Homo sapiens: one gene and its partners. The protein of the gene in region 3 interacts with the protein of the main gene of each other region in a pairwise test. Each region holds a gene or a part of one and is shown on either strand. Other genes may lie near its edges.

Region 1 (5,122 bases), on a different chromosome or scaffold from region 3:
TTCACCATGTTGGCCAGGCTGGTCTCGAATTCTTGATCTCAAGTGATCCGCCCACCTCAGCCTCACAAAGTGTGGGGATTACAGGTATGAGCCACCACACCTAGCCAACACACACATTCTTTATACACTGTTGGTGGAAGGTTAGACTGTTTTAACCTTCCTAGAAAAGTAATTTGCCAATGTATACCAAGAGCCTTAAAAATGTTCATATTGACTGGCTCAAAAATTTATTCAATTTTCTTCCATTCAACAAATCACTTGTTGAATGCTTACTAGGGGCCAGGCATTCACAGAACGACTTATCCTTATTCTCCAGCTTCAGACCATCAGTGCTGCTTTAATGGCAAGGGAACAAAGTTTTAACCCCTTCCCTTGGTATTCATTCAATATTTATTATGCATTCACAAGGTGCCTGGCACTGTGAACACCACAATGGAGAGTTCTTTTATAATCCGACTTCCCCCTATTCTCATTTCCTATCACTCCCAAGAGGGGCCTCTGTTCAGGTCAAACTACGATGTTCTTTATTCCCCCAACATATTCCTACTTTCTCCCTCATTTAAATTCCACCTGACTTTTAAGATTTGGTTCAAGCCAGGGGCGATGGCTCACGCCTGTAATCCCAGCACTTTGGGAGGCCAAGGCACGTGGATCACCTGAGGTCAAGAGTCCAAGACCAGCCTGGCCAACATGGTGAAACCCCATCTCTACGAAAAATACAAAAATTTAGCCGGGTGTGGTGGACGGCGCCTGTGATCCCAGCTATGCAGGAGGCTGAGGCAAGAGAATCGCTTGAACCTGGGAGGTGGAGGCTGCAGTGAGCCGAGATCGTGCCATTGCACTCCAGCTTGGGAAACAAGGGCAAAACTCCGTCTCAAAAAAAAAAAAAAAAAATTTTGATTCAAATAGTTTTTTACCCAGTCTTTCTTGAAGGGTCGAACAATTATTTTGTAGACTAAGGTTGTTAGCTAGGATTCAGAAATAGATTTCTGTTAACTCCTAATACTGTCTGTAAAATTTTATCTAAAGGTGCATTTTTCTAGACAAGTTCATAAAAGACTTCAAGAGGCTGTAGATGGTCTTGTCACTGAAAAACGGCAACGAATTATATTTATACTATTATTTATTGTATGCTGTTTTGTTTTTATTCCCCAAGAGTAGGGATTATACATTGTGTGGCAGACACACAGACGGTGTGTGTTTGGGGATGTTTGCTCCCTCAAAATCCTTCCTTAAGATGCGGTGCCTGTAATTCCAGCTACTCAACAGGCTGAGGCAGGAGGATAGCTTGAGGCCAGAGATCTGTCTGGATAACAAAATGAGGCCCCCCACCATTTCTATAAAACAAAACAAAAAAACCTTTCCTAGAAGAAACTAACATGCCCCTTGAAAAACTAAGATTAGCAACATTTCATAAAACCCACTTTTTTTTTTTTTTTTGAGACGGAGTTTCGCTCTTCTTGCCCAGGCTGGAGTGCAATGGCGCGATCTCAGCTCACTGCAACCTCCGCCTCCCGGGTTCAAGCAATTCTCCTGCCTCGGCCTCCGGAGTTGCTGGGATTACAGGTGTGCGCCACCACGCCCGACTAATTTTGTATTTTTAGTAGAAACGGGGTTTCTCCATGTTGGTCAGGCTGGTCTCGAACTCCCGACTTCAGATGATCCGCCCACCTCAGCCTCCCAAAGTGCTGGGATTACAGGTGTGAGCCACCGCGCCCAGCCGCGACCCACTTTTAATGATAGAAATACACATCGCTTTTTCAGATATACTAACTGGACTTAAAGCAAAGTTTAAAAACAATCATCGGCCGGGCGCGGTGGCTCACGCCTGTAATCCCAGTACTTTGGGAGGCCGAGGCGGGTGGATCAGAGGCGGGTACATCACGAGGTCAGAGTATCAAGACCATCCTGGCCAACATAGTGAAACCCCACCTCTACTAAAAATACAAAAAACAAAAACAAAAACAAAAACAAAAAAACTAGCTGGGTGTGGTGGCTCGTGTCTGTAATCCCAGCTACTCGGGAGGCTGAGACAGGAGAATCGCTTGAACCTGGAGGCGGAGGTTGCAGTGAGCCGAGATCGCGCCACCGCACTCCAGCTTGGCGACAGTGAGACTCCCTCTCCCTCTCAAAAAAAAAAAAAAAAAAAGAAAAAAAAATCGAGTATCACCAACCACACAGCAGAAATGGTTCAAAAAAGCTCAAAATCGAAGGTCCATTTACAAATTCTAGCGGTACTAAACCCTAAAGGCCGTAATTTTAGGTCTTTCTGCTTTTGCTTTCCGGTTACTTTTTTAAAGGCTGACCTACTTACTGAAGATTATGGGACAACCTGGCAACATTCGTACTGCACAAAAATGGTATCTGCCCGAGTTGGAAGAATTATTTCTTAACAAAAGAGCTATCTATCGGAAGCTTGGACATGCCCCCTGCAGTGAGAACCCTGGGGCCGTTCCATTTCTTCTGAAAAGATCCAGGCCCACAGGCAGCGACGACCCTGGCCAGATTTGCCGTGAGAGAAAAGTGAAAGTGGGGGGAGTCATTCTGTCCGTCCCGTGAAAGCACGGGAGTTAGTGACGGGATGCAGGCCGGGACTTGCGGCCACTAGCCGAGGGTCGGCCTCTCCCACGTCTCACTCGTGCCGGCGTTAGCCGTGCGCCCTGGAAGCCCCGGCGCTGCGCGCGGCTCTCCCGGGCGGGGAAAGCTGCAGCGCCGCGGAAGCTTTCCCTGCAGGTTAAAGGTCAGAGGCGCTGCGGTAAGCGCAGCTGGAAAGGGGGTTGTGTGCTCCAAGCCGCTCGCCGTCCGGCCCCGCGTCCCGCCGCCCCTGTCGCCCCCGCCTCTCCCGGGGCCCCGCGCATTTGGCGCCGCAGCTCCGCGCTCCCAGCCGAAGTCGAGCAGCCCCAAGCGGCGCTCCCAAACTGAACGGCTCCGCTGGCCGCAGGACGCCGGCCGGGGGATGCGCTGGGACCGCGTCCGTTGGCGGTTGGGGTGAAGGGCACCCCCTGGCCCCCGCCCCCGACGCGGTCGCTGGTGTCCCCACCCAGCGTTTCTTACCGGCGCTTTTGCGCCCTGCTGACTCCGGCGTCGGGCGCCGACGCGACAGTCCCGCGGCTGCCACTCGTGGATTGGGGGGCGCTCCGGGAAGAGAGGTTGAAGAAAGCCGACGGGATGTGGGATCGAGATTCACGGCGGAGAGAGCTTTCTGTGTTTGGGTATTTCTGGGGGGTCAGAGTTCGTGACCTCTTTCTCGGCTCGGCGGCGCGCTATCCCGCCAGCGCCTGCGCATTAGCAACGGGGAGAAGCGGCGAGAGGAGGTCGTGACGTTCCCAGGGTGGGGTGGAGGGATCGGAGGGCCGAGCAGCGGCTCTGTGAGTCCACTGCCCCCTTTTGGCTTGGAGGCAGAGTGCCCCGCCAGAGCTACGCGTTCCCAGCCAGGTAATTTTTGAAGCCACGTGCAAAGGTTTAAGCATCGTTTGCCAAAGGTGGGCATTAGGGGAGGTTTTGAGTCAACGTTTTAGATTTGAGTAATAAATAACCCTCTGGGTCTTAGGCATATCTGTTTCTAATTTCTGGAAAACTGGGCTCTGGGGTAGAGTCCAATCATATTTAAACTTTTTTTTTTTTGTATTACACTTTAAGTTCTAGAGTACATGTACACAACGTGCAGGTTCGTTACATATGTATACATGTGCCATGTTGGTGTGCTGCACCCATTAACTCGTCATTTACATTAGTAAGCTTTATATATAATGACAAGCTGAGGCCGACTCATGCAAATGGTAAGGCAAAGTTTCACTTATAAACTGTTGTGAGTAAAGAGACATAATGGCTAAACAGGGCAAGAATATAATCACTAGAGACTGGGCACGGTAGCTCACGCCTGTAATCCCAGCAAGTTGGGAGGCCGAGGCGGACGGATCACTTGAGCCCGGTTGTTTGAGGCCAGCCTGGCCAACATGGCGAAAACCCGTCTCTACAAAAAAATTAGCCAGTCCTGGTGGCGCGTGCCTGTCGTCCCAATTACTTGGAGGCTGAGGTGGGAGGATCACCTGAGTCAAGACGGCAGTGAGCCAAGATCACACCACCGCACTCCAGCCTGGGTGACACAATGAGTCTTTCTCTCTCTCTCTATATATACACACACACATATATATGTATATTCCACATCCTCTCTATAATATATATATTATTATATATTGAGGATTATCCTCAATGGCCGTTTTTTGTCTGTTTTGCTCAGTGATGTATTACCAAGCACATAGGACAATGCCTGCTATTCAATAATGATGTATGAAATGAAAGCCAGGCAAGTGGCTGCTGGGAGGCCAAGGAAAGATCACTTGGGGCCAGCAGTTGGAGACCGGCTTGGGCAAGATAACAAAACCCTGCCTCCACAAAAAAAATTTTTCAAATTGTGAAATGAAGAGACATTGGTGGAACATCGCATTCTGACAGTGGCCACCTGTAGTGGCAAGGTGTGGCAGGAATAACTGCCCTGTGTGCAAAGTACTCTGCGCTTTAGATTTTGAAGCATTCTTGAAATTTCTAGTTTTTTTTTAAATCTCCTTTGTTTTGTCATGAAATTTCTATTTTATCTAGCTTAGGTCGGCACTGTAGGAAAGCAGCCACAAACTCAGGGCAGAAATCCAAGGAAGGAAAAACAAACGTTTGCTGGGAATGAGAACATCTCTGTTATTTCTCTCTGGAACTAGGCAGACGGACAGAGATCAAGGCATGAAACAATCCCTAACAAGTAAAAATATGCTTTATCCCTCATTAAAAATCCACCTCTGCTGAGCACAGTGGCTTCTGCCCCCAGAGCCTTGGGAGGCTGAGGTAGGAGGCTTGCTTGATGCCAGGAGTTTGAGACCAGCCTGGGCAACATAGTGAGACTCCATCTCTTAAAAAAAAAAGAAAAAAAAAAGGCATGGTGGTGCAGGCCTGTATTCCTAGTTACTGAGGAGGCTGAGGTGGGAGGATTGCTTAAGCCCAGGAGTCTGGTCCAGTGTTGGCACCATTGCATTCCAGCCTGGGCGAGAGTGAAACTTTTTTTTTTTTCCAACCTCTACCTTTTAGCATTATTTGTTGTGTATTTGGTTTGGTTTTAAGGGAGACCCCTGCC
Region 2 (5,172 bases), on a different chromosome or scaffold from region 3:
TCGGTAAAGACAGGAAGTAGACATGCAGTGTTGGTGGTTGCCAAGGGCTGAGGTGAGGAGTGACTGATTACAGGTAACAGGATTTCTTTCGGGGATGAAGAAAATGTTCTAAAATGATTGTGATGATAGTTGTACAACTCTGTGACTATACTAATAACTTGAATTGTACATTTTAACAGATGAATTGTATATAAGTGAATTATATCTCAATAAAGCCATTATAAATTTTATAACATCTCTTTCTTGTGGACAGGGATACAAGTCAGATTCTCACCGAATTTCCCATTACTTCATACGTAAGTTTCTAAGATGGTAAGTAACTGATCCCAATGACTGGTTCAGACACATGACTACAGAGGTGGAAGGTTATCATTTTTTTAGAGACAGGGTCTTGCTGTGTCACTCAGGCTGGAGTGCAGTGGCACAATCTTAGCTTATGGCAGCCTCAAACTCCTAAGCTCAAGCAATTCTCCTGCCTCAATCTCCCAAGGACCTAGGACTACAGGTATGTGCCATCACACCAACCTGATTTTTTTTTTTTAATAATTTTCTGAAGAGACAGGATCTCACCACATTGCCCAGTCTGGTCTCAAACTCCTGGCCTCAAGTGATCCTCCCACCTCAGCCTCCCAAAGTGCTGGGACTATAGGTGTGAGCCACCGTGCCTAGCCAAGGTTACCTTAAGGTAATCCTATTCATTCATTTTACAGAATAAAAAAACAAAGATAACTTACCATAGGCCATATAACTCAGTAGCCGCAAAGCCAAGACCAGAAACTAGGTCTGACAGGTGAGCTCAAACTCTCTGTGTGAGCATCAACACCTCCACCTTTCTGTCAGGATCACAGGAGCTACGAAGCAGCTCAATACTACAGCTGCTCTGTTCTTGTCGTATCTTGGTCTCCGCAGAGTCCAAGATCTATCCACCTTTCACTTGTTTGGACAGATAAAATTCTTAAGTTCTCTGTCAAAGCACAATTATCATTAAATATTAAGAACTAGAAGAATATACCTCAGGGACTATCCAACTCAATTCCCTCCTCTAGACCAGGAAACCAAGAAACAAAGATCAAATGACTGGCTCAAGGCCTCACAGCTAACTGCTGACAGAGCTAGAACCAGCGTTCCAGCCTCCCAACATCCAGCTCAGTGCTCCTACCCTTCCCAGAACTTCTTCGACCTACACCTTCTCAACTTCATGATGAGCCACAAAGTGGGTAAGGGGCAAGAAGCATGCAGAGCACTTTCAATCTTTGTATAAGATGGTTATGGTAGCACTAGAAAAGGCCTTCTCCCTCTTTTTCCAAGAAATTCTGGCAGGGTTCTGAATACCTCACCCCCCTGCAACCCCCAGTTCATGGGAATCACACATGTGTAGCGTTCAGCATGGGGCAAAACAAGGAACAAGATGCTCAATCACACCTAGTGGATGAGACAAGGGTAAACTGGAACAAGTTCTAAGGTTGGGAAGTAAGCAATGTTGTCTTTGTCTACCCAGAATCCATCCCTCCTTTTGATGGGAACCTTGGTTTTCCTTTTGAGAATGTACCCTCTCCATTTCAGCCCAAGGGGTTCAAAGCAGTCTTATCCAAACACCTAACAGGCTCTGGGACCCAAAGCAGGTCAATCCCTCCCTCTGGCCATAATGATTGGTTCACAGATGAACATGAGAATTAAGGCAGCCCAGTGAGCATCAGATCAGGGACTTCTGCTCCATTAGGAAGGAGGGCTCAACTTCTCTGCTGGGGCTGTCAGCCTAGAACTGTCATAACCTGCCATAAGGAGAAAGTCTCCCTGAGAATGAAGCGGATACTGAATAAATCAGAGCCAAGAGATGATAAAGAGAAGTCTGAAGCCAATGTTGGTGGTGCTCCCGGATTCAGCCACACTAGAAGCCAGCTCAACCCCATTTTAGGTAAATCAATTTGAGTTCAGTTTCCATTACCGAAACTGAAAGAAGTGCTCACTTTTACAAGGAATGGCACTCAAATTCTACCAGTAGGGGAGGCGCCTGTGGAAAATGGCTTCCCCTCTCTCAGCCTTTCACTGGACTTTCCTTTGAGGTAAAAAAGACTCTACCAGCTGGTGTAGAAAAGACTCTTCTGCTCCTAAAAGGCTGTGAGTCTATAAATCTAGCACAGATCACCTTGGCCCCCTAAAGACCACCTGAGGCCTACAGCCTAACTCATCATTATCCACTTGCCTGACTCCATTTCCAGCACTTCACTTACAGGAAGCTCCTTCCAGATGGAAGTTCTCCACCCCTCCCACATACTTCCACAGGGTGGGTCTGGTTTTCTGCTCACCCTTAACAAGCTGTGGCAACGGCAAATCCAGGTCAAGGTAGGTTTGGGACCCCCCTACTCACAAACACAAGCAGGAGCCATGGTCTGTGTTCAGCAAGAAAGCCTGGCCATGCTGCAAAGTGAGTGCATTCATGTCTCAAGTGGTTAGCAGGTGGGTGACCCCTTGGGGATGGCCAGGGAGTCTGGCCTGTGGCCTCCATGAACTCTGAACACCTCTCTCCGTCTCCCACTTTGTCAGAGGCTCTGATAAGTACATCCTGGTTATGGCAGGGGAATAAACTAAAACATGTTTAACTTGAGGCCGGGAAATTATCTGTCTCACCCTCCTATGCCCAAGGAGAGCCCAGGGCAGGCTACTGGGGGGATTTTCCTGGAGATTATACCAAAATATTCCCTTACACAGCCTCTGAAACCATTTGGGTAGGGAGGGGCCCGCGACCGTCTATCCTTGTGGCGGTGACAGATCAGTAGAGTGAATTGCAGGAGTCAGTATTGTCGAGATTGTAACTTGAGGTTTAGATTCCTGGGTAACAGAAGCGAGGGCAAAGGCTCGCCCACCTCCCCGGACACGAAGAGGGGCCAACTTCCTCCAAGAACGGGGCCTTCCCGCGGGCCAGGAACTGTGACGGCCGCCGCCCCCTCAGGCCGAGTGCAGCAGTTCCGCGGGCATACGCGTCCAGGAACCAGACTCGGGCCGCCCCGTGCCCACCGACCCTCCGGAAACGAACCGGATCTCGCCCGGCCTCATGGACCCCTTCCCCCGGCTCCTGTTCCGGGGCTCCGGCGAGCGCGGCCCTCGCCAGACTGCGGCGGGCCGGGCTCCTCACCCGCGCGTCCCTGCCCGCCGAGGTGCAACACGCGCGGCCGCGCAGCGAGGGCTGCACGCTGCCCGGACGCCGGCTGCCGGCGGAGTGCCCTCACCTTACTCGCGGTGGCTTTCTGGAGGCTGCCATTCGGCGGTGACGTGCCCCAGCCCACGTCAGGGGAGCGCAGACCAGCTGATCACCCGCGGAAGGGCCGGCGCGAAGGAGGCGCGAGAGCCGGCGGGCGGGCGGGCGGGCTAGCGCCGGGTCGGCCACGCCCTCGCCCGTGGCGGGCGCTGGCGCCGCGGCCCCGCCCACACGCAGGCCCCGCCCACACTCCCGGACCTGGGGTTCGCGGCCGCAGCGCCTGCGGCCCAGAGCGGGGCCTGCCCTTCCACACCAGTCCGCATTGCCTCTCCCTGCAGCGAGCGGGGAAAGGACGCAGTGCTGCTGAGTGTCTTCATTTTTGTTCGTTTTTGTCGTCATTCCTCAAAGAGGAAAAAGGGCTTTGCCGAATAAAGGGGCTACTGTCCCAGGGATTTTCCGGCTTAATTTAGGAGGGCTGAGAAGAGAGGGACGTGGCCGGCTCCGGAAGAACCTCGACAGGGTCTTCGAGGCTTTGGAACAGGGTCTCAAGCTTTAGAAATGTCCCCAAAAGTATGTTCCCAGAGAGCTTCAAAATCCAGCTCTCCGCTCCGCTTGGATAGTAAATAGCCCCTTCAAACTTAACGTCCAAACGGAACTCCTGGAACTCCCAATGCACCGAAGCAAAGCAAAAACGTTCTCCACCAGTCTTCTTTGCCATCTCAATCAATGGCTACTCTATTCTTAAGAGGCAAAATTTAGGAATCCTCCCTGCCTCTTCTCTTTCACACCCCACATCTAATCTGCCAGCAAAATCTTGTTGGCCCTGCCTCCAAAATAGACCCCTAATCTGGCCGTGTCACACCACCTCCACCTCCTACCCTCTGATGTGCATCAGAGGGTTGTACCACCCCACCCGTGTGGTTACAGCAGCCCCCCAAATATCCCCTCACCATCCCGCACCTGCACAGTCCAGCCTGAACAAAGCCGCCAGACCAGTCCTTTGAAGCGTGACACCAGGTCACTTCTTTGCTCAGCACTTTCCATTAATTTCTCGTTTCACGCAGCATAAAAGCTCCATTTGATCTACCCCCAGCCACATTTCCTCCTGTTCTCACCTTCCTCACTCTTCTTCAGCTGAAATGGCCTCCTGGCTCTCCTTGAAAAAGCAGGGTACACTCATGTCCCAGGGCTTTTGGACTTGCTCATCCCCCAAATATTGAGGCTCCCTTCCTCATTTTCCTTCAAGTCTTCGTTCAAGTATCACCTACCCTGACCATCCTATTTAAATTTGTAAATCATTCCAATATTCCTAATCCGCCTTACCCTACTTCATTTTTTCCATAGCACTTACCACCTTTTAACAGGATTCTTTTAATGTACTTATGTGTACTGTATTCTTCCCCCTCTCCTGCCACCACCCACGCACACAACAAAACCATCAGTGCAGATTGTTTCTGTTTTGTTTAATGATGAACAATATCTAACATGTCATAAGTTCTCATTATATATTTTCTGCAGAAATGAATGTTTCAGAATGTGCACTCCTCAAAAGCAGGGATGGTGGCTCTCTTGTTCATTGTTATTTCCCTGGTGCTTAGAACAACACCTGGCACTAAATGAAAGTGACCACATTTTTTTAAAGGTGAATGGCACCTCCTCCTGCTTTGACCTTGGTGTAAGGCCTAATATACCTGTATCAGCTAGGTTCTGCTACCTGCAAGAACTCAAAGTCGTTATTGAATAAGCATTTAGGCAAGCCGAATTAGACTGTGTAGTTAAAGCATGAAAAAACTAAAGATGTGCTTCCTGGGAAAGCAGCACACATCTGTTGCATTTCCCCAAATTTATGAAGCCAAAAACAGAGAGATTGTAAATAAAATACTGGTTCCAGCCCACATCTGAAAGCTGGTGGGAAAAATCAAGTTATAAGAGAAAACGAGATAAGAGAGAGAGAGATAAGTGAAACTTAAGGGGGA
Region 3 (3,500 bases):
TACCAAGCTGGTTAAAGTGGTGGTTGGTTAAGAAACTGTATATCAGGTTCAAACTACTGTAATAAATGTTAGTTACCACAAATACCCAATTTAAAGATGTTATCAACATACCAATAACAATCAGTACAACTTTTTAAGTGGGAAGTTTTTTCCTGTTAATTTTTGTTTGTCAACAAGAAGAGAAGCCAGAAAAAGAAAAGGTAATCATTTTCATCATGCTGTTTGGTCTGTTTGTTCTTCCATCTCTCCCATTAGACTCTAAGCTCCCTGCATGTCTGTCTCCTTCATAACAGTATCACAGAACTTGGCACTCAATGAGTGTTCAATAAATTTGCTATGTTGACACATCCTAACCTGGATCAGAATTTCAGCCTCTCATTGCTGGTCTATAAATAAAGTTTTCTGGGGCTGGGGAAAAAAAAAACCTAGAATGATAGGTTTGGCTACCCATGATCTATTACCTTCTAATATAGTCATGGACTATATAACATTTCAGTCAACTACAGACCACATATACAAGAGTAGTCCCAAGAGATTATAATGGAGTTGAGAAATTCCTATCCCATCATAGCTGTGGTGTCACAGCACAATGCATTACTCATGTGTTTATGGTGAGTACACAATCAAACCTACTGTGCTGCCGGTCATATAAAAGTCTAGCACAGCTGAGCACGGTGGCTCATGCCTGTAATCCCAGCACTTAGGGAGGCTGAGGATGCAGATTGCCTTAGTCCAGGAGTTCAAGACCAGCCTGGGCAACATGCCGAAACCCTATCTCTACAAAAAAATACAAAAATTAGCCAGGCATGGTGGCATGTGCCTGGAGCCCCAGATACTTGTTGAGGTGGGAGGATCGCTTAAGCCCAGAAGGTCAAGGCTGCAGTGAGCTGTGATCACACCATTATACTCCAGCCTGGGCAACAGAGTAAGACCCTGTCTCAAAACAACAACAACAAAATGTAGCACATACAATTATGTGCAGTACATAATACTTGATAGTAAATGACTATTACTGGTTTCTGTATTTACTATACTGTACTTTTTATTGTTTAACTGTAGAGTGTATTCTATTTTTTTAAAAAGTTAATTGTAAAACAGTCTCAGAAGAAGGGATTGTTATCATAGGAGATGATAGCTCCACGCCTGTTACTCTCCTGAAGACCTCCCAGTGGGATAAGATGTGGAGGTGGAAGACAGTGATACTGATGATCCTGACCCTGTGTAGGCCTAGGTTAATGTGTGTTTGTGTCTTTGTTTTCAACCAAAGAAAAAGCTTAAAAAGTAAAATATGGGTAGCCAGAGGAACAAAAAGTAAAACAAACAAATACTAAATAATATTTTTAAATAAAGTTTCTAGAATAAAGATATAATGAAGAAAACATTAGCCAGGCATGGCGGCATACACCAGTTGTCCTAGCTGCTTGGGAGGCTGAGGTGGAAGGATCACTTGAGCCCAGGAATTCAAGACCAGCCTGGGGAACAGAGCAAGATCTCATCTCTTTTTAAAAAAAAAAAAAAAAAAAAAAAGTGATTTTAGTATGACAGGAAAGAAAGAGAAAAATATTGTTATATAGCTGTACAATGTGTTTTAAGCTAAGTATTACAAACGAGTCAGAATGTTAAAAAATGTAAAAGTTTATAAAGTAAAAAAATTACAGTAAGCTAAGGTTAATTTATTATCGAAGAAAAATAATTTTTTGATTTAGTGCAACCTAAGCTGTACAGTGTTTCTGTAGTGTACAGTAATGCCCTAGGCCTTCGCATTTACTCACCGCTCACTCACTGATGCACCCAGAGCAACTTCCAGTCATAATAAGTGTCCTGGTCAGGTGAACCATTTTTTATTTTTTGTACCGTATTTTTCCTGTACTTTGCTTGTTTAGATATGTTTAGATACACAAATACTACTGCATTACAATTGCCTATTTATTCAGTACAGTCACATGCTGTACAGTTTTGCAGCTTAGGAGCAATAGGCTATACCATATAGCCTACATGTGCAGTAGGCTATACCATCCAGGTATGTGTAAGTACATTCTATGATGTTTACACAACAACAAAATCACCTAATGATGCATTTCTCAGTACGTATCCCCAACGTTAAGCGACACATGGCTGTATTTTCATCTCTTTTTCTTCACATTCCATGTATGCTTCTTGACATTGCTTAAATTTATAAATCAAGGTCCTATTTATACTTATATTACTACTGTATTAATGCTAATAATATTCTGTAAACTATTCTATCTTGATTAAGGCCATTAGTGCCCATTAAAATTTTTTTTAATTGGGTTGAATGCCTTATTCGGTTGGAATTTTACATTCCCACAATGTGTGGCAGCTAATGCTTCTGGCACATCTACTGAGAACATAAAAGTTCTCCTGGAACTAACAAATTACTTCCCTTCCAACATAATTATATAATCTGAGAGTTGAAAAGCACCCTAGAGATTATTCTGTGGTCCAAAATCCCTCCCAATTAAGGAATCTCATCTAAAACTACTCAACTCTGTCTGCAAGAAGGGATGCTAATATTTAGATTCTCCATGACACAGCGCTGCAGCCATAGCAGGCTCTTTAATACATGCTTTTTGTTGTTTCTCATACATGTTTGTTGAACTGAACAAATCTAAAATGGACGTATTTCACTCATTTTATTTTTCTTCCCAGGCTTTAGCTGTAACACCCACTGAATCTGTAATTTAAAGCTTTGCATGATTCCTCGGCTCATTAGCCAACGTTCAAAAAGAAATTCAATAAAGGAAACTCAATGCATTAAAGAAACTCATTTTAACAGTTTAAAATTTTAAGCTCCTGGCCTGGCAAAGTGGCTCTTGCCTATAATCCCAGCATTTTGGGAGGCTGAGATGGGAGGATCTCTTGAGCCCAGGAGTTTGACAATAGCCTGGGCAACAAAGGGAGACCCTGTGATATGCTATGGCTCTGTGTCCCCACCCAAATCTCATCTCGATTTGTAATCACCACCTGTGGAGGGAGGGAACCTGTAATCCCTCCCATGTGTTGAGTGAGGGAGGTAACTGGATCATGGGGAGTTTCCCCCATGCGGTTCTCATGCTAGTGAATGCTCACGAAATCCAATGGTTTTACAAGTGTTTGGGAGTTCCTCCTTCCCTTCTCTCTCTCCTGCTGCCTTGTGAAGAAGGTTCTTACTTCCCCTTTGCCTTCTGCCATGATTGTAAGTTTCCTGAGGCTTCCCCAGCCATGTATAACTGTGAGTCAATTAAACCTCTTTCTTTATAAATTACTCAGTCTCAGGTATTTCTTTATAACAGTGTGAAAATGGACTAATACACCCTGTCTCTACATAAAATTTAAAAATCAACCAGATGTGGTGGCTTGTGCATGTAGTCCCAGCTACTTGGGAGGCTGAGACGGGAGGATTGCTTGAGCATAGGAGGTTGAGGCTGCAGTGAGCCATGATCACACCACTACACTCCAACCTGGGTGACACAGTAAGACCCTGTCTCAAAATAAATAAA
Region 4 (4,472 bases), on a different chromosome or scaffold from region 3:
AAGGCCAAGGGGTCTACATCTGTTGAGGGCCTTCTTGCTGTGTCATCCCACAGTGGAAGGTGAAAGGGCAAGAGAACACGCAGGCTTGTGGATGTGCAAGACGCAGCAGTGTTAATCTGTGCTGGGCGTGGATTAACGAGGGCAGAGTCCTCATGACCCAACCCCCTTCCATTAGGCCCCACCTCCTAGCATGGTTGCACTGGGGACTAAGTTTCCAAATCTGCTTTTTGGAAGATCCATGCAAACCATAGCTGGCCCCAAGAAATCATCCTCAATCCAGGTGGATATTTCAAAGCACAGGTGCTGTGTTATGTGCTCTTCATGCTTGGCCTCATTCATTCATTTCTTAGGAATTAGTACTTACTATGTGCTAGACACTGTTCCCAGCTCCAAGGAAAACAGAATTCTAGCAGTGATTCCTAGTCTTGGCTGCATACTGAGATCACCTGGAGAGCTTTTCTTTTTCTTTTTCTTTCTTTTTCTTTTCTTTTTTTTTTTTTTAAGAAACACAGATGGAAAACTTAATGTTATGTTTTTTATCCGTCTCTGAAGCCAGCATCATACTTGATGGTGAAACTTGAGTATTTCCAGCTAAGATGGGGTTCCAGGCATGTTTGGGATAACCACCCGAGTCTACTATGTGGAACCCTTCTTCTCTGATGGGTAGAGAGCCCTAAACCCTCCTGTTCTGGACTCCATGACTCTCAGTCACTTTCTCTCTAGAACGATCTTCTTGGTATCTAGGACTCAGTCCTATTTGTTTTGAGATTGATTCCAAACTTGATTCCCTCCCCTCTTATCCCTGCAGGGCAGACCAGACCAGTCTGTGGCCATGGCTCCTTACTGGCGGCAGTGAGGGCATGTGGGCTGCTTCCAACCACTCCTGCTTTTCTTCTTTCCTTTTCAAAATTCCTCCCCTTCCCCCTTTAGGGAGCCTCCCTCTTGCCCACTGTGGTGAGGAAGGGAGAAGAGACTCTGTTCCCAGGACCAGCTGCCCCTGATGGGTTTCATATTTTTTGTGGGGAGCTTCTCTTCCTAGATAATAAACACAAAGTGATAACATTAGAACATTATTAGAATGTCACCATTTTGCAACCCCTTAGTAAAATAGTGGGTCGAAGTAATAGTCTTCAGTGACTGCCAACATCACAGAAAGACAACTGGACATTATTTGCCTTCTGTGGGAAGTGCACGCACACTCTCATGGCAATCTTGCCAAAAAATAGCCTGTATCTAATCAGGTTTATGTCCTGAACCACCGCGGTATCAAAAATACAGAGTTCATAGGACTCTATTCAATAACACAGGGGTGTAATCAGCAACATCCGTACTGGAAATCTACAGGACAACCTGATTTCTTCAACACATGAACTGCAAAGAAAAAAAAATACCTGTATCTCTACTGAGATTTGCAGATGATAGAATGCCTGGGATCTGCTTTACACAGTACCCTGCAGGGGGAGGTTTGGGAGTGTGAGTGATACAAATGGCTGAGCTGATTACTGGGGAAGCGGGAGGTGGGTCTATGGGCCCATCGGACCGTTCTCTCTATTGTGGTGTGTACATGAAAGTTTCTATGATGAAAAATACGCAGGGGTCGCCCACGTTTATTTTGATCACGAAGTTGGTTTTCTCTGGGGCATATTACTGTGGGTTCTGAGGCTTTAGACACAATGGGAATGTGTCTACGATGTTTTGAGATCATTGAGACACCAACCTTTTTTTAGGTAGATTTTTTCTGAAACACCAACTTTAATCCATGAACAACCACCCAAGAAATGCTCAGATGCTTTTTACCTCTCCTTGCATTAGATACTTTGGGGACAAGTAATAGATTTGTAAAAACTGAAAGTAATGGAAGGAGGACAACAAGCCCTGAGACCGTCACATGTAATCATTGCTTTTCAGGGTCTGCAATGACCCGTGCCCGGAGCTTTCCAAGCAAAGCTCCTTTTGTTCCTTACCACAGACCTAAAAATGGACCTAAAAATTGCAGATGGGGAGATGGGGCATGGGGTGCAGAGGGAAGCAGGAGTGTGGACCTAGGTGGCCTCTGAGTTGGGAGCTCTGTATTGGGCCATCTGCTCCTGACCGAGAAGCAGCCCCGGGGTTGAGCTTGCTGAGATGATGTGGCTCCGATGTTCCACTTGCTTCAGACGGTTGTGATTCTTTGCAGGGCATGGCACAGGCACACAGGACCCCCCAGCCCAGGGCTGCCCCCAGCCAGCCCCGTGTGTTCAAGCTGGTTCTCCTGGGAAGTGGCTCCGTGGGTAAGTCCAGCTTGGCTCTTCGGTACGTGAAGAACGACTTCAAGAGTATCCTGCCTACGGTGGGCTGTAAGTGAGGGCAGAGCACCCCTTTGTTGGTCTTCAGTGCAGAAGTCTGGGCTGCTGACCCACACCTGGGGCAGATGGGGACGAGGCCCACCTAGGAATCCCCATGCTGGGACCTTGAGCTGCCTGTGTCCAGTGCGTGAGGGGAGGGGGTGAGGTCCAAGAGGGCAGCCACAGAATCTACAAAGACAGGAAATGCCCTTGGCTCTGGGTCAGGTTTCAGCTCAGCTGGAGTCTGCAGGGGGTGGAGATTCTGGGGTAGGACCTCTGGCCCCAAAGGGTCGGGCTGGGTGCGAGGGATTATGCTGGTGGAAGGGACAGCCCGGAAGAAGCCTCCTGGGCCCTGGCCACTCAGCGGCCTAAACCAGCTGTCCTCTCCCACCACCCAGGCCGCCCTCCTGCTAACACTGCTCCCTTGCTTTATTTACCCCAACAGCATCTTCCTTCCTGCCTGGACTTGGTTTACCAGCTTGGCCTGGATTGGGGGTGGGAAGATCATTTTGGGGGTGGGCGGGGAGGGAGACCTTCTCTCTGTGTTTCTTAAAAAGGCTAACCTGTCATGAAGCTCAGGAGTAACTGTATGGGGCATCTGCAGGCTGCTGGCCTCCTTCCCATCCTGCTGTGGGCACAGTCTGCCTAGGCAGTGAAACCCAGTTTTCACCTGAAATGGGGAAAGCCAGCGTGTTCTTTATGCCCATTCCCCCTGGGGGAACACATGCAGAATCAGAGCCTCGGTTTCAAATTCGGACTCTGACATGGATAAGCTGCACATCTCCAAATTCACTCATTCATTTACTCATCTAACAGGCATCTGTTGAGCATGAACCCTTTTGCAGGCCTGCGTTAGGTGGGATGGATTCTATAACCAGCTAAACAGATGCACCAAACACAGAAACACAATTGCAAGATGTGGCACATGACGTTAGCTATTTAGGGAGCCCTTCCATTTTCTCAGGGGGGTGGTTCCTGAAGGATCCCCAGGGGATACAGGGGAATTGGCAGGGGTCTGCCTGGCCCGACTCCCAGAGCTAGTGGTGAGAAGGGCCAGGGTGATGGTGAGAGGCTGTCTGCAGAGGGGGACCCTGGGGAGAGAGTCAAGGTTACCCTGTGGTGTGCAGTACAATCCTCTTCTCCATTAGCAAGGAGATCTGTACCCCTCACCCCCCAAGTCCTGATATTGGACTTGGCTTCCTTTAAAAATACATCAAAATGCCAAGGCTGGCCTGAGGGTGGCCTCAGTTGAGAATAGAGCACACAGATGGGGGCCTCACCAGGCCTGGATGTTGAGAGCTTTGTACCTGGGTGGCTGGTATTCAAGATGCAGAGAGAGGCAGCAGGTGTCAGGCCAGGTGAGCTGGACTGGGGATGGATCTCACTCTGACACGGAGGTCTGCACACTGTGGCTCTCTGGCTGTTCTTGTTGTTTTGTGAGTAAGGTTCTGTGGAGACACAACTCTACCTCTTCAGGTACTTACCCTCTGTAAATGATATTCTTGCTGTTCCTCCTCCTCTATTCACTCTAAAATGGCAGCAGGGTTGAGTGGTTGCAGCAGTGACCCCATGGCCAGTAAAACCTAAAGTATCTGCTACAGGGCCTTTTACAGAAGGACTCCATGACGCCACCCTAGCAGAGCCTGCAGGAGCCAGCGCCCAAAGGCACTCACTAGGTGAGCGCAAGCAGGGCTGAGAGATTCCGAGATGCCCGGTTGGAGCGTAGGAGGGTGCTTTGGATTCATTGAGACGTGCTTGGACGTGCTCAGCCCACAGAGAGCTGTACCCACAGAGCACCCACCTTTCTTGGGTGGGGGTGGGGGGGTGATGTGTGGGGTCTGTGAAGCTTCAGGGTGGTGCCGGGCATTCTGTATTTTACAGGTGAGGGGGATGGAGGCCCCGACAATGAGGCGCGAGGCCCTAGTTCCTTTCATTCCAGCAAGCCAGGGTCCGAGCATCCCCCTCACACCTGCCCTGCCTGTACCAATTGCCTGCCCTCTCTTCAGGGGGCCTACCAGGGTCGGGGGGTGAACAAAGCTGGGCTTGCTGGGGAGTCCTAGGCCAGGTTGGGGGTCTTTGCTTGGGGGGCAGGCCTGTATGTCTCACTCTACTCCTGGTCCTCTGTCTGGCCCCGCAGGGGCCATCCCC
Region 5 (4,472 bases), on a different chromosome or scaffold from region 3:
GGAGCTGTGGCTCTTGTCCTTGGTGGAGCAGGCTCAGTACTGGGGCTGGGCCTTCCTTTGCTCGCCCCCATCCCCTGTCTGTCCTGGGGCGCCCCCAGAAGGGTGTCCGCGCCTCTGGCCGGGGCACCAAGGCCCACGTGCGAGGTTGTAGCCTGGCCGGGTGGCACCAAGGGCCCACAAAGGCAGTGCTGGTAGCCCTGGGAGGCAGAGCCATGGATGGGCCATGGAAGGCGTCCCCAGGACCCCCACTTCCTGCCATCCCAACGCTGGGGGCCCACTCGTTCTTTCCCTGATGGAATTCTTTCCACCCTCCAAGGGTGCTGGCAGCCCTGGGCACCAGTGATGGCTCTGCCTGCTGATCTGGGCATGGGACCCCAGCCCTCCCATCTGCTCCCAGCCTGTGTGCACCTCAAGGGTCTCATAGCAGAAGGCTGTGAGGGGGCCTGGGGGGCTGACGAGGGCATGCTCACGAGGGAGCTGACTGTGCCAGGCTGCAGGGTTCTGCCCCCAGCCGCCTTCTCTCCCCTCACTCTGTGCCATCCCAAGATGTGGCGGGCGTCCTGGCCAGGCCCAGGGGTCGACGCCACCACGGGCTCTGGACTGCCTACCCTGGGGTGGAGGACTAGGGTGGGCCTACGTGTCCCCTCTGCCCCATGCTTGGGGACACCCTGCTGACCAGCAGCCCAGCCTGCACCTGCCTGGGGAGTCCCTGGCCCTACTGCCTGGGGGGCTGTGGGGAAGGGGGCCCACCCTCGAGACCCCATTCTCTCTCTGGTCAAGCATTGGCCGCGGTTAGTGGGTTACATTAGGGCCACATGTGGGGGCCCCTTGGCTGGCTGGTACCTCGTGGCTTCCCCACCCTCTCCCCCTCTCCCCCACCCCCACATGGGCTCCAGCCAGGCCCCGGGCCCCACATGGGGACAAGAAGTCCTGTGTCCTCATACCTTCCTCATGGACTTCTGCAGCTGAGGAGAGCCGGGGGAGAGAGGAGAGGGTTAGACAGGGGCACACAGCAATCCTTAGAGGCGGGGTGGAGGTCAACTTTGGGTGGGGCGGGAAGGCTGGGGAGTGGGCATGGGGGCCGGGGCCTTGGACCCCACTTACCTTCCTCCTGGGCTTCCTCTGAGAGCCGGAGAAGCCAGGAGCAGGAGAAGGCGGGGTTGAGGGAGACAGGGAACAGAGACAGTGATCAGAGTGTACTCAGGCCGCAAGGACAGGAGGCCGGCTGGCCGGGAGAAGAGGGCCTGGGGCTCGCTTGGCAGGGGTGAAAGATGGGGCTCAGTCCTGCATCTCTGGCCAGCCCCGGGGAGCACGGACTCCCACCAGCAGAGCTGGTCACTGTCAGCTGGGCTGGGCCCGGCCCCTGAGAGGGGTTCTGAGGCCCCTCCCACCCTCCTGGGGGCCTGGTATTCCCATGCCTGGAGGCGCCTGTGCACGGGGGCCCTTGTTAAGTCCTGCTCTGCAGGTGACACAAGTGAGAACGGGGACAGAACCCACAGGGCCTGCGGGAAGCCCCGGCTCTGAGTGCACCCGGAAACAAGGCTGGCACTGAGGGGTCTTCAGAGACATGTCGCACGAAGACCCTTCCGTGGCCTCCCGGCCTGCCACGTGGCTGCCCCAAGAGAAAAGATGGCTCCCCAGTGCCATATTTCCCTCGCAGAAATGAGTCTTTCCACCTTTTCGGCAGAAAAATAAATGTTTTGCTCACGTTGTTAGGGTAGCCAAGTGTTTTCAAAATATTTTCAAAACATAGCACTCAGGACTCCTCACAGGACAGCCCTGCCTGCTAAGGTTGCGTGAACGCGCTCCCCAGTTGAGTGGGTGCCAGGGATTCCAGGGCAGCGCCGTCGGCCTGAGAACCGCCACCCCACACGGTTCCCAGGTGCGCCCACACCCGCCCACGCCTGCCCGGGCACGATGGAGACGCCCACAGACCACACCTGGCCAGCACAGGGAGGGGGCTCCAGGCTCCACCCAGGGTTACAGCACAGGGTTGGGGGGTGGCATGGAGGGATGGAGACACAGAGAGACAGAGATGGAGATGGAGGTGGAGAAATGGGGACAGAGAGGCCAAGAAAGACAGAGACTGAGAGAGAGAGGCAGGGAGAGACAGAGACCAAGAGGCTGAAAGATACAGAGACAGAGAGAAGCTGAGAGATACACAGGCACACAGAGAGACAAAGTTGCCAAGAGAGACACGGAAAGGAACTGGAGAGAGATGGAGAGACTCTGAGATGCCGGGAGGGTAGAGATAGAGAGAGAGGCAGAGAGACAGCAGCACTGGGCACGCAGGGCACTCGGTGTTTTGAGGCCTTCATGACCAGCCCCAGTGAACTCCACACACCATGGCACACGGAGGATGAAGGATTAATGAAGGATCGTGAATGCATATTAATCGATTAAAGAGACAGGGGTTAGTGATGATTTAATGACTCATCCATCATTAATTAAGTGGTGGCCTCATTTATCATTAATTAATGATGAATGGTGATTGTTAGTGACTAATGATGAGGAAGATGGAAGGTTGATTGACAAGCTCAAGGCGGCCTGGAGCAGCCTGGGGAGGGGGTTCTGTGAGCGCCACACGGGAGAGGGGGGTTAAGTTCCAAGGAGGGGCTGGGGGGGCTTCCGGTGGTTGCCAGAATTACCTTCTTCTTCGTACTGCTCTGCATTGGGACAGAACAAAGAGGGGAACCACGTTAGAAGGGGCAGCCCGTGAAGGGAGGAGGAGGATGAGAGGCCAGTGTGTCCCGGCCCTGGACAGGCCAGCGACTGCCCCTGCCCAAGAGCGTGGAATCAGGGGTCCTCGGGCCCTGAGGAGGCGCTGGGGAAGGCAGAGGCTCTGGTGATGATGGTGGCTTTTGGGGGGCTCGGGGGTCCTGGATGCCCACGTCCCACAGTGGGCATGAGAGAAGCAGAGAGACAGGACCCAGAGCCTGACCTGCAGGCCCCTCAGGACCATGTGGCCACACTTCGGGGAAAAGACGAGGCCCCCCACTTGGACAGCTGTTTTCCGGGGGTCACTCAGAAGCCACCCATGGGATGCAGCTGATGTAGGGCTGTCAAGGGGACACAGGGTATGCACAGTCCAGCCCCCTGCCCACATGTGAGCCTTCCTTCTAGAGCAGGAAGTAGAAAGAAAATGGCTGTTACACTTACCCTCCACCTGTTCACTGTGGGGCAGGGAGAGAGAGAGAAAGAAAGAGAGAGAGGTAGTGAGGCTGGGCTTTGCTTGGACTTGTGCAAGATAGCGCATGCTCCAGCCCCACAGAAGCCAAGGGGCCAGGGTCCCGAGCCAGGCAGGGGGCAGCCACCAGCTGGGTACTCACACTTCCTCGTCAGACATGGTGAAGGTGGGTGGTTTCTGCAGAGAGAGATTCAGAGAGAGAGAGAGAGAGAGGATGGAAAGAGAGTTACGAGCTGCCTGGGTGTAGGATGGGGGATGGGGTCTTGGAGCAGCGCTGTGGGGGACCGCGGGCAGGGTTTGGGGGCCAGCTCTGGCCTTGGGTGAGTCCACCTCCTTGGGCCTCCCCTTTCTCCAGGGCTCCTGGCCCCTCCCAGCTCTTGGCGCCCCAGACTCTGTCCCCTCTTCCTGCCCTGGCTCCAGACTGGAGCTTGGAATCTTGGAGCTGGAAGGGATGTTGGAAGGTCGTGGCGTCCACCCCCACCCAGGGCAGACATCCTCTCCGTGGCGTCCCCTGAGGAGGGTCATCCAGAATGCAGGCCGTGTGCCGTCCAGCCCGCTCTAGACACTGGAAAGGTCCCGCTGATGGAGCTGAAACCTGTCTCTGGGTGTTCTCTGCCCAGTGGGTGTAGGTGGGGTCTCCCTGGGAGCCCCTGGATGACCGAGACTGGCTCCCCAAGATGAGTAATCTGCTCACCCTACCATTCCCCATGAGAACCCCTCTTCCCTATTTGAGCCCAAAGCTCCCTTCTGTGCCTGTTTTCCTATGGGGTGCCCAGAGTGTGTCCCACCACACCCCTCTGAGGACCCCTCCTCCAAGATCACAGAGCAGGGAAGCTGTTCCTTCTTGTTACCCCTGTACCCTGAAAACATTGAGGCTGAGCCCCAGAGCACGTTGGGTTGGGTCTGGGCCGCTTCCCGTGCACCCCCCCGGGCCGGGCTCTGTACAAGGCATACTTGGACTGCAGGAGCCCACAGAACAGCCCCCCCATTTCCCTCCCTGTGGCCGCTTTCCCTGGTCCCGGGGATGCTCTGGATCTGTCCCTGTCTAGGGGAAGCTCCATGCCCAGGACTGGCTGCCCTGTCCATGTGCGGTGGTGGCGCCAGGCCAGCATGCTGGGGACCGTCTCTCTGTGAGCTGGCCACCGTGCACACTGGGCGGCCAGGCCTGGGGAGGCTCTGAGCAGCTGCACCGGCATGTTGGCCAGGGTTTTAGAAAACAAAGTTCATTACAACACAGTACAGATTACTCGAAGACAATAGCTACGGTCCCCCCTGGGAGTGTTGT

The links.
Region 1: the proteins of NUDT3 (region 3) and NR2C1 interact in a two-hybrid assay, tested with the Homo sapiens proteins (one large-scale study listed by BioGRID and IntAct).
Region 2: the proteins of NUDT3 (region 3) and XPNPEP1 interact in a two-hybrid assay, tested with the Homo sapiens proteins (one large-scale study listed by BioGRID and IntAct).
Region 4: the proteins of NUDT3 (region 3) and RAB17 interact in a two-hybrid assay, tested with the Homo sapiens proteins (one large-scale study listed by BioGRID and IntAct).
Region 5: the proteins of NUDT3 (region 3) and TNNT3 interact in a two-hybrid assay, tested with the Homo sapiens proteins (one large-scale study listed by BioGRID and IntAct).

Annotation. Positions count from the first base shown.
Region 1 is NC_000012.12:95,070,326-95,075,447, forward strand, and holds the start of NR2C1 (nuclear receptor subfamily 2 group C member 1), read right to left. Parts: upstream 3,294-5,122; 5' UTR 3,055-3,293; intron 1-3,054. UniProt on the Homo sapiens protein: Orphan nuclear receptor. Binds the IR7 element in the promoter of its own gene in an autoregulatory negative feedback mechanism. Primarily repressor of a broad range of genes.
Region 2 is NC_000010.11:109,920,175-109,925,346, forward strand, and holds the start of XPNPEP1 (xaa-Pro aminopeptidase 1), read right to left. Parts: upstream 3,338-5,172; 5' UTR 3,260-3,337; coding exon 3,228-3,259; intron 3,073-3,227; exon of another isoform or gene 2,723-3,072; coding exon of another isoform or gene 2,706-2,722; intron 1-2,705. UniProt on the Homo sapiens protein: Metalloaminopeptidase that catalyzes the removal of a penultimate prolyl residue from the N-termini of peptides, such as Arg-Pro-Pro. Contributes to the degradation of bradykinin.
Region 3 is NC_000006.12:34,386,170-34,389,669, forward strand, and holds part of NUDT3 (diphosphoinositol polyphosphate phosphohydrolase 1), read right to left. Parts: intron 1-3,500. UniProt on the Homo sapiens protein: Cleaves a beta-phosphate from the diphosphate groups in PP-InsP5 (diphosphoinositol pentakisphosphate) and [PP]2-InsP4 (bisdiphosphoinositol tetrakisphosphate), suggesting that it may play a role in signal transduction.
Region 4 is NC_000002.12:237,583,862-237,588,333, reverse strand, and holds part of RAB17 (ras-related protein Rab-17), read left to right. Parts: intron 1-2,176; 5' UTR 2,177-2,179; coding exon 2,180-2,336; intron 2,337-4,472. UniProt on the Homo sapiens protein: The small GTPases Rab are key regulators of intracellular membrane trafficking, from the formation of transport vesicles to their fusion with membranes.
Region 5 is NC_000011.10:1,921,749-1,926,220, reverse strand, and holds part of TNNT3 (troponin T, fast skeletal muscle), read right to left. Parts: intron 3,391-4,472; exon of another isoform or gene 3,365-3,390; 5' UTR 3,347-3,364; coding exon 3,330-3,346; intron 3,174-3,329; coding exon 3,160-3,173; intron 2,667-3,159; coding exon 2,649-2,666; intron 1,123-2,648; coding exon 1,105-1,122; intron 966-1,104; coding exon of another isoform or gene 945-965; intron 1-944. UniProt on the Homo sapiens protein: Troponin T is the tropomyosin-binding subunit of troponin, the thin filament regulatory complex which confers calcium-sensitivity to striated muscle actomyosin ATPase activity.